Linked DNA regions of Homo sapiens. The protein of the gene in region 1 purifies or fractionates together with the protein of each later gene. This does not show direct contact. Each region holds a gene or a part of one and is shown on either strand. Other genes may lie near its edges.

What was found. The genes of interacting proteins can lie anywhere in the genome.
Region 2: the proteins of PGA3 (region 1) and RMND1 purify together in Homo sapiens (affinity purification with mass spectrometry; one large-scale study listed by BioGRID and IntAct). This does not show direct contact.

Annotation. Positions count from the first base shown.
Region 1 is NC_000011.10:61,202,207-61,206,314, forward strand, and holds the start of PGA3 (pepsin A-3 preproprotein), read left to right. Parts: upstream 1-1,308; 5' UTR 1,309-1,358; coding exon 1,359-1,414; intron 1,415-1,900; coding exon 1,901-2,063; intron 2,064-4,108. UniProt on the Homo sapiens protein: Shows particularly broad specificity; although bonds involving phenylalanine and leucine are preferred, many others are also cleaved to some extent.
Region 2 is NC_000006.12:151,417,627-151,421,126, forward strand, and holds part of RMND1 (required for meiotic nuclear division protein 1 homolog), read right to left. Parts: intron 1-3,500. UniProt on the Homo sapiens protein: Required for mitochondrial translation, possibly by coordinating the assembly or maintenance of the mitochondrial ribosome.

The sequences.
Region 1 (4,108 bases):
TCCTGCCTCAGCCTCCCCAGTAGCTGGGATTACAGGCGCCCACCACCATGCCCAGCTAACTTTTCTACTTTTAGTAGAGACGGGGTTTCACTATGTTGGCCAGGCTGGTCTTGAACTCCTAACCTCAGGTGATTCACCTGCCTCACCCTCCCAAAGTACTGGGATTACAAGCGTGAGCCACGGCGCCCGGCCAAGCATCCTCTTTCTAAGTCACTCACCCATGAGTATGAATTGTTTGCCCAGATTGCTTCACTCCATTGTAGCTGATTTCAACCCAGTTGTAAGCCTGGAGCACCTGGAGAAATCAGACCCAGGTGGGATCTCAAAGGTGGAGAGGGTGGGAAAGGAGCAAAAGAAAGAGAAGGGGTGCAGAAAGGGAGGGACACAGATTCCAAAGACATACCTGGCCTGTCTGAAGTTTGCCTCCTCCAGGAAGGGAAGGCAGCATTCTCCCGGTGCTGTCTCCCTCCTCCCCCGTGTACTGTGCACATCTCCTTCCCAGACTCAGCCCAGTTGCACCAAAAGCAAGCCACAAGGCCCATAGGCTAGTCAGACGCCCAACAACCCCACACAATGACACTTATGTGGGGAATTGTGTCCTGAGACCCAAACGACTGACCCCCCAATGTGCTGTGAATAAGCAGTGACCACAACCAGTACCACCTATGACTGAGTCGGGGGCTGCTCTCTAAGAACCCCAGCTGCATGCCCTCTGGGACAAATCAGGCCACCTGGGGCTCCTTCACATCTCTCCAATGCTGTGTTAAACGCACTTTTAACCAACTTTGTCAAAATGCTCAGCTGGTAAAGTTTTAACGTAGGCCCTTGTCAATGCTTCAGAAATAAGCCTCTGGCGGCGCGACAGAGCAAAACTCCGTCAGGAAAGTAAGGAAAGAAAGGAAAGGAAGGAAGGAGGGAAGGAAGGAAGGAAAGAGAGAAAGAGAAAGAAGGAAAGAAAGGAAAGAAAAGAAAGGAAACAAAGGAAAAGAAAACAAATAAGCTTCCAGGTCATTGCTTAGAAAGAAAAAGAAAGAAAAAAAAAGAAAAGAAAAAAGAAAGAAAAAAGCCTCCCGGTCATTGCTCCTCTCTCTCTCTGCGGGTCCATCCCCATGGCACCCTCCCCCCTCCCCATGGTGCAAAGTTATAGTGGAAAGTGCCTCAGCTGGAAAGATCTCAGAATGTGGCTTAGGGCAGCCACAATCTTATCAGGAGCTTCTCTGTTTGGGATCAGGGGAACCGGTGACTTTCAGAGGCCGATAAGGCGGGACCCAACTTGTATATAAGGGGCAGCTCATGCTGCTGCTCTGCACCTTCCTCCCGTCTTGCCTTCTCCCTCGAGTTGGGACCCGGGAAGAACCATGAAGTGGCTGCTGCTGCTGGGTCTGGTGGCACTCTCTGAGTGCATCATGTACAAGTGAGTCCGGGTGGTGTGGGTGTGAAGACGCTGCCTCCCACATCACCTTTCTTTCCTCCCGTGTCTTCCTTCTTCCCTTTTTTCTCCCTCTCTATTCAGCTGTCTCCATCCCCCTTTTCCGCCTCTCTCTCTGCCTTTTTGGGAGGCAGCCCTGCAGACATGGTTAAAACTCGGGCCCAGCCTGACTGTGGTTCCCAGCTCCAGCCCTAGTCAGCTTAACTTCTTTGCATTATGGGGCAGAAGTGGGAGCTTCTCCCTTCCTTCCATCTTCCTCTCTTAGATCAGCTGGTTAAGAGTCCAGCCTGGGTTTGGCTCCCAGCTCCAGCACTAGTCAACTTAACTTCTTTGCATTGTTGGGCAGAAGAGGGGGCGTCTCCTTTCCTTCCTTCTTCCTCTCTTAGACCAGCTTCCCTTCCCTTCTGGGGCTGCCACAGCACCCGGTCAGCAGAATCCTTGCCTAATTCCTCTTCCTTCTCCAAACCACAGGGTCCCCCTCATCAGAAAGAAGTCCTTGAGGCGCACCCTGTCCGAGCGTGGCCTGCTGAAGGACTTCCTGAAGAAGCACAACCTCAACCCAGCCAGAAAGTACTTCCCCCAGTGGAAGGCTCCCACCCTGGTAGATGAACAGCCCCTGGAGAACTACCTGGATGTGAGTGTGCGGGCAAGTGGTGGGGCCAGCTCTGAGGACTTGGCCCGCAGGAAAGAGGGTGTCCCAGGGGTCTTGGAGGACGGGCCTGGGCTCTGTGGCTCCAGGCAGTGACCCAGAGTCTGCCCCCTAGATGTCAGTGGCCCAGGGCAGGCAGGAAAGCTCACAGTCAGAGTTCATTCATTCATTCGTTCACTCGTTCATGCAATGTTAATTTCTCTGAGCGCCTCATTCTATTTCAGGGCCTGTGCTGGGCTCAGGGGGAGACAGCAGTGAGCAAACTCATAGCCTAGGAGACAAACACAGTCATCAAGGGGTCTCGCAAAGCAATGAAAGGAACAGGCAGCAGGAGGACTACAGAGTGACGGTGTCACACTGCGAGAGTCTGCCACTTGGGCAGGGAGCCTCCCTGGAGCCACGCAGGAAGAGCGGCAGTTTCCAAGACAACAAGACAGAACTCCGCATAGCCTGATCCCTTGTGCCAAACCCTGTAGCAGGCGGGAGCACAGTGCCTTTGAAGGGGAGCCGAGAGGGAGGGAAGAAGGGTGCTGCAGACTGCGGTCCGAGGAGCCGAGGGGTGGACGCAGAGAGGCTCCATCCTAACTGCCTCTGATTTATCTTAAACAGGGGTGTGACAAGATCAGATCTGAGTTTCAGAAAGATCACCCTGACTTTATTATTTGAGATCCGATAGCAAACACCCTGCCCTCCTGCAGATATTGTATGTCCCCTCTGTGACTGGCACAGGGCACAGGGCACAAAGCAGTGATGCCCGTGGTTCAGAGACTGGCCTCTGCCATCCAGCAGACCTGGTGCAAATATGGGTCCTAGTGCCTCTAAGCCACAGGACCTTGGCCAAGTCATTTAAATACTCTGAGCCTGTGTCTTGGTCTGGAAAACAGAACCACTAATATCTACCGTCAGAGGATGTTGCCAGGAATTAACACGATCATGTTTTCTGGAGTGCTTAGCATGGGGTCTGCCAGGCCCTTGGTAAGAGGCTTAATTAGCGCATTTATTTAGTTCACAAATATTTAACAAATATTGGCACCTCTCTATGTGCCAGAGGCTATGCAAGTTGCCAAAATGATGGTGAATAATCAAAGTTCCTGGAGCTTATACTCTAAAGGGGATGACAAATAAACAACCATGTAAGAGAATTTCAGATAATGATGAGGACCATGACAAATTAATTAATTGGACTATGGGGAACAAAAAGATTGAGAGGGGGCAAATTTAGATAAAGTGGTCACGGAAGGCCTGTTGGCAGAGGGGACATTTGACTAGAGAGCTGAATGATTGATTTTTGATAAAAGGATCAGCCAAGGAAAGATCTAGAATAAACATTTTCCTAGCACAAGGAATAGCCAGTGCAAAGGCCCTAGGGCAGGAGTGACTGGTCATCGCCAAAGAACAGCAAGCAGACCAGTGTGGCGGGAACAGAGCCGGCAGGGGGAAAATGCTGCCACTAACAAGAAAAATACTGGTTGATTGGCGGAGGCGGGTGGATCACTTGAGGTCAGGAGTTCGAGACCAGCCCGGCAACATGGTGAAACCCCGTCTCTACTAAAAATACAAAAATTTGCCGGGCATGATGGCACACACCTGTAATCTCAGCTACTTGGGAGGTTGAGGCAGGAGAATCACTGGAACCCAGGAGGAGGAGGCTGCAGTGAGCCGAGGTCGCGCCACTGCACTCCCGCCTGGACAACAGAGTGAGACTTGTCTCAAAAAAAAAGAATAAAAATTCTGGCAATGCCCTTTCTCAAAACCTGCTGTACACATCTAGACGTAGAAATAAGAAAACTGGACAGGTTTCCATCTTTAAGTGGCTTGCTTAGCTTCTGATAAACAATTTAAGGCACAAGCACTTAAGCTGTAACTTGCCCGGTGCTAGAAGGTTCCACCGCCATCCTCTGAGAACATGCGCTGTACGGATGGGAAGACTGTGACAGACAAGACAATGGCTAAAGAGGGAACAGCAGATTGTTAGGTGCTTGTGGTGCTTAACAGAGAGCAGAGGGTAAATTGGGGGAGCAATCAGGGAA
Region 2 (3,500 bases), on another chromosome or scaffold:
ACTACAGGCATGTGGCATTGCATGTGGCTGAAAACATTTGTTAATGCTGACCTTTGCAAAATACTGCCAACAAACATGTAAATAAAATTTACAAATGAGTTTCAAACTTCTGAACCAAATTAATTCAATCTTTAATACCAACATTATTTATGAAGTACACAGAAAAAAACTCATTTTGTTTTCAATTTTTTTTTTTTTTTTGAGACAGAGTCACTCTTGTCACCCAGGCTGGAGTACAATGGCATGATCTCAGCTCACTGCAACCTCTGCCTCCCAGATTTAAGCAATTCTCCTGCCTCAGCCTCCCAAGTAGCTGGGATTACAGGTGCCTACCATCACACCTGGCTAATTTTTTGTATTTTTAGTAAAGGGTTTTACCAAGTTGGCCAGGCTGGTCTCGAACTCCTGACCTCACGTGATCTGCCTACCTCAGCCTCCCAAAGTGCTGGGATTACAGGTGTGAGCCACCATTCCCAGCCTAAACTTTTTTTATTAAAAATTTTAGGGCCAGGCATGGTGGTTCATGCCTGTAATCCCAGCACTTTGGAAGGCCAAGGCGGGCAGATTGCTCGAGTCTGTGAGTTCAAGACCAACCTGGACAGCACAGCGAAACCCTATCTCTACAAAAAATACAAGAACTAGCCAGGTGTGGTGGTGTATGCCTGTAGTCCCAGCTACTTGGGAGGCTGAGGTGGGAGGATCATGTGAACCTCGGAGGCAGAGGCTGCAGTGAGCCAAGACTGTGACACTGTACTCCAGCCTAGGCAACATAGTGAGACCCCATCTCAAATAAAAAAAAAATTTAATATGTCCACACTTTTTTGTTTTTTATTTAAAAAATTTTTTTAGAGATAATGTCTTCATATGTCACCCAGTTTGGGGTGCAGTGACACAATCATAGCTTACCGCAGCCTCAAACTCCTGGGCTCAAGTGATCTTCCTGCCTCAGCCTCCTGAGCAGATCAAGATATAAACAGGTAAAAATTGATAAATCTTAACTCTTATTCTTATCTGTATCTTTCCCTATCAGTAATCCCTTCTAGTTTCCGCTGTATCCTTCCAGTGTTTATGCAAACACTAGACAAGCAAGCATAAACATACACACTCTCTCTCTTAATTTCTACATTTTAATATAAGAAGTCTGTGCTTACTTTTTTTTCTGAGACAGAGTTTTGTTCTTGTTGCCCAGGCTGGAGTGTATTGGCGCGATCTTGGCTCACCACAACCTCCACCTCTTGGGTTCAAGCAATTCTCCTGCCTCAGCCTCCCGAGTAGCTAGGATTACAGGCATGTGCCACCACGCCCGGCTAATTTTGTATTTTTAGTAAAGATGGGGTTTCTCCATGTTGGTCAGGCTGGTCTTGAACTCCTGACCTCAGATGATCCACTGGCCTCGGCCTCCCAAAGTGTTGGGATTACAGATGTGAGCCACCGTGCCCAGCCTTTTTCTTTTTTGAGACAGAATCTTGCTCTGTCGCCCAGGCTGGAGTGCAGTGGCATGATCCTGGCTCCACTGCAACCTTCGCCTCCTGGGTTCAACCAATTCTCATGCCTCAGCCTCCCAAGAAGCTGGGATTACAGGCGCACACCACCATTCCTGGCTAATTTTTGTATTTTTGGTAGAGATGGGGTTTCATCATGTTAGCCAGGCTGGTCTCGAGCTCCCAGCCTCAAGCAATCCACCTGTCTCAGCCTCCCAAAGTGCTGGCATTACAGGTGTGAGCCACCGTGCCTGGCCTTACACTTAGATGTTTAACTAAATAAAAATCTAAGTTATGAAAGTACACATAAACTGATGTGGTGGCTCACACCTGTAATCCCAGCACTTTGGGAGGCCTAGGGAGGAGGATTGCTTGAGCAAGGGTTTGAGACCCTGTCTCTACAAATTATTTTTAAAATTAGCTGGGTGTGGTGGAGCACTCCTGTGGTCCCAGCTACCCAGGAGGGTGAGGCAGGAGGAATCCCTGAGCCCAGGAGATCAAGGCTTTGGTGAGCTATGATCATGCCACTGCACTCTAGTCTGGGTGACAAGCAAGACCCTGTTTAAAAAAAAAAAAAAAAAAAGTAACACATACATACCTGTTCACGATTAAAAAAAAAAGGAAAATATCCTAGAGAAGGATTCAGAAAAATGGTAGGCTCTCTTATGCTACCACACTACTTAAATCCTTTATTCTCCCCAAGGACAGGCCTGTAGAGACACTTTGCTGTGTACTTCCAGATCTTTCTGTATTCATACATGCATGTGTGTGCAAGCAAACACATGTACATGTGTATGCATATAAAGATAAACATGAATATTTTTATTTGCTTACACAAATGGGATCATACCCTATATAAATTTAGATTTAGTTTTTTAATCTAATATTATCTGCCATGTTTATTTTCACAGATGTATCACATTCCTTATATTAACAAATAAGCATTTTTATTGTACAGGTAAGGAAACAGGATAGTAAAAGTAAGCCTTTATAGAAACTATTCACAAACCTACGTATATTTAGTCCTAACTATTCAGTTTGGATATTATAATTCACTACATCAATTTCTGCTTGCATGACCAAGAGAACAGGAGAGAAGAATCTCTCTACCCTACTTCTCAGAGAATTTGAGGCTTCAGATATGCTGCAGGATGCTCCTGATGGATGGGTTTTTAAGTTTTGTTGGTACCCTGAACTATAGGTCCTGAGCTATGAGAGATACACAGACAATGAAACACTGTATCACTTCTCTCCAGGCAGAGCATCTAAGGAGAATATGGAAAAACAAGTCTTAGGTGAACATTTGCAGTGAGCTCTGGTAACTCATTCCACATGCTAGAAGGGATAAACTGGACAATGCTGCCTGTGAGAAAAACACCAACATCCGGGATGTTTCATTCCGTAAATCCTGGGACAACTACAAGAATAATAAAAGCTGAAAACCTTTCCAGATACTTATTTAAAATGATTCATCAGTTTTTAGACATAGTTATTCCCATTTTAACATCTCGAGGCATCTTAAAATTAATGGTGTCTGACAGGTGGCACTTGAGACTTACTTGTCTTTGCCTTAAATAATTTATTTTCTTATGCTTTCCTTTTCATATATGCCCAAGAGGGAATGTGATATAATTTATATCCAGCTAAGATTAAAAGATATTTCAGTAAGTGTAAAATTTTAATCCTCTGATAAAAAAAGTATTGTCATAGTTTAACTGGCAGCAGTTTTTCTCTCCAGTGGCATCTTGGTGTCTCAGATTCAAAGAAACTTTTCTGTAGCAATTAAGCCTATTTAGCATTATGATGCAGTGATATATTTTTACAGAGAATTCCCATTAACCAAATTCAGGAATATGTCTTTCTACCTTCAAAGAACACCTACTGTGCTCCTTAATGTGGGTTTAATGTAGATGAATCGTGATCTCTTTTGCACATGCGTGATTTCTTTCAGTACAGTCTTAACACAGCCCAACTACTTCTAATGGGTAAGAGTTCTCCCTGCTTATAATCAATGAAATG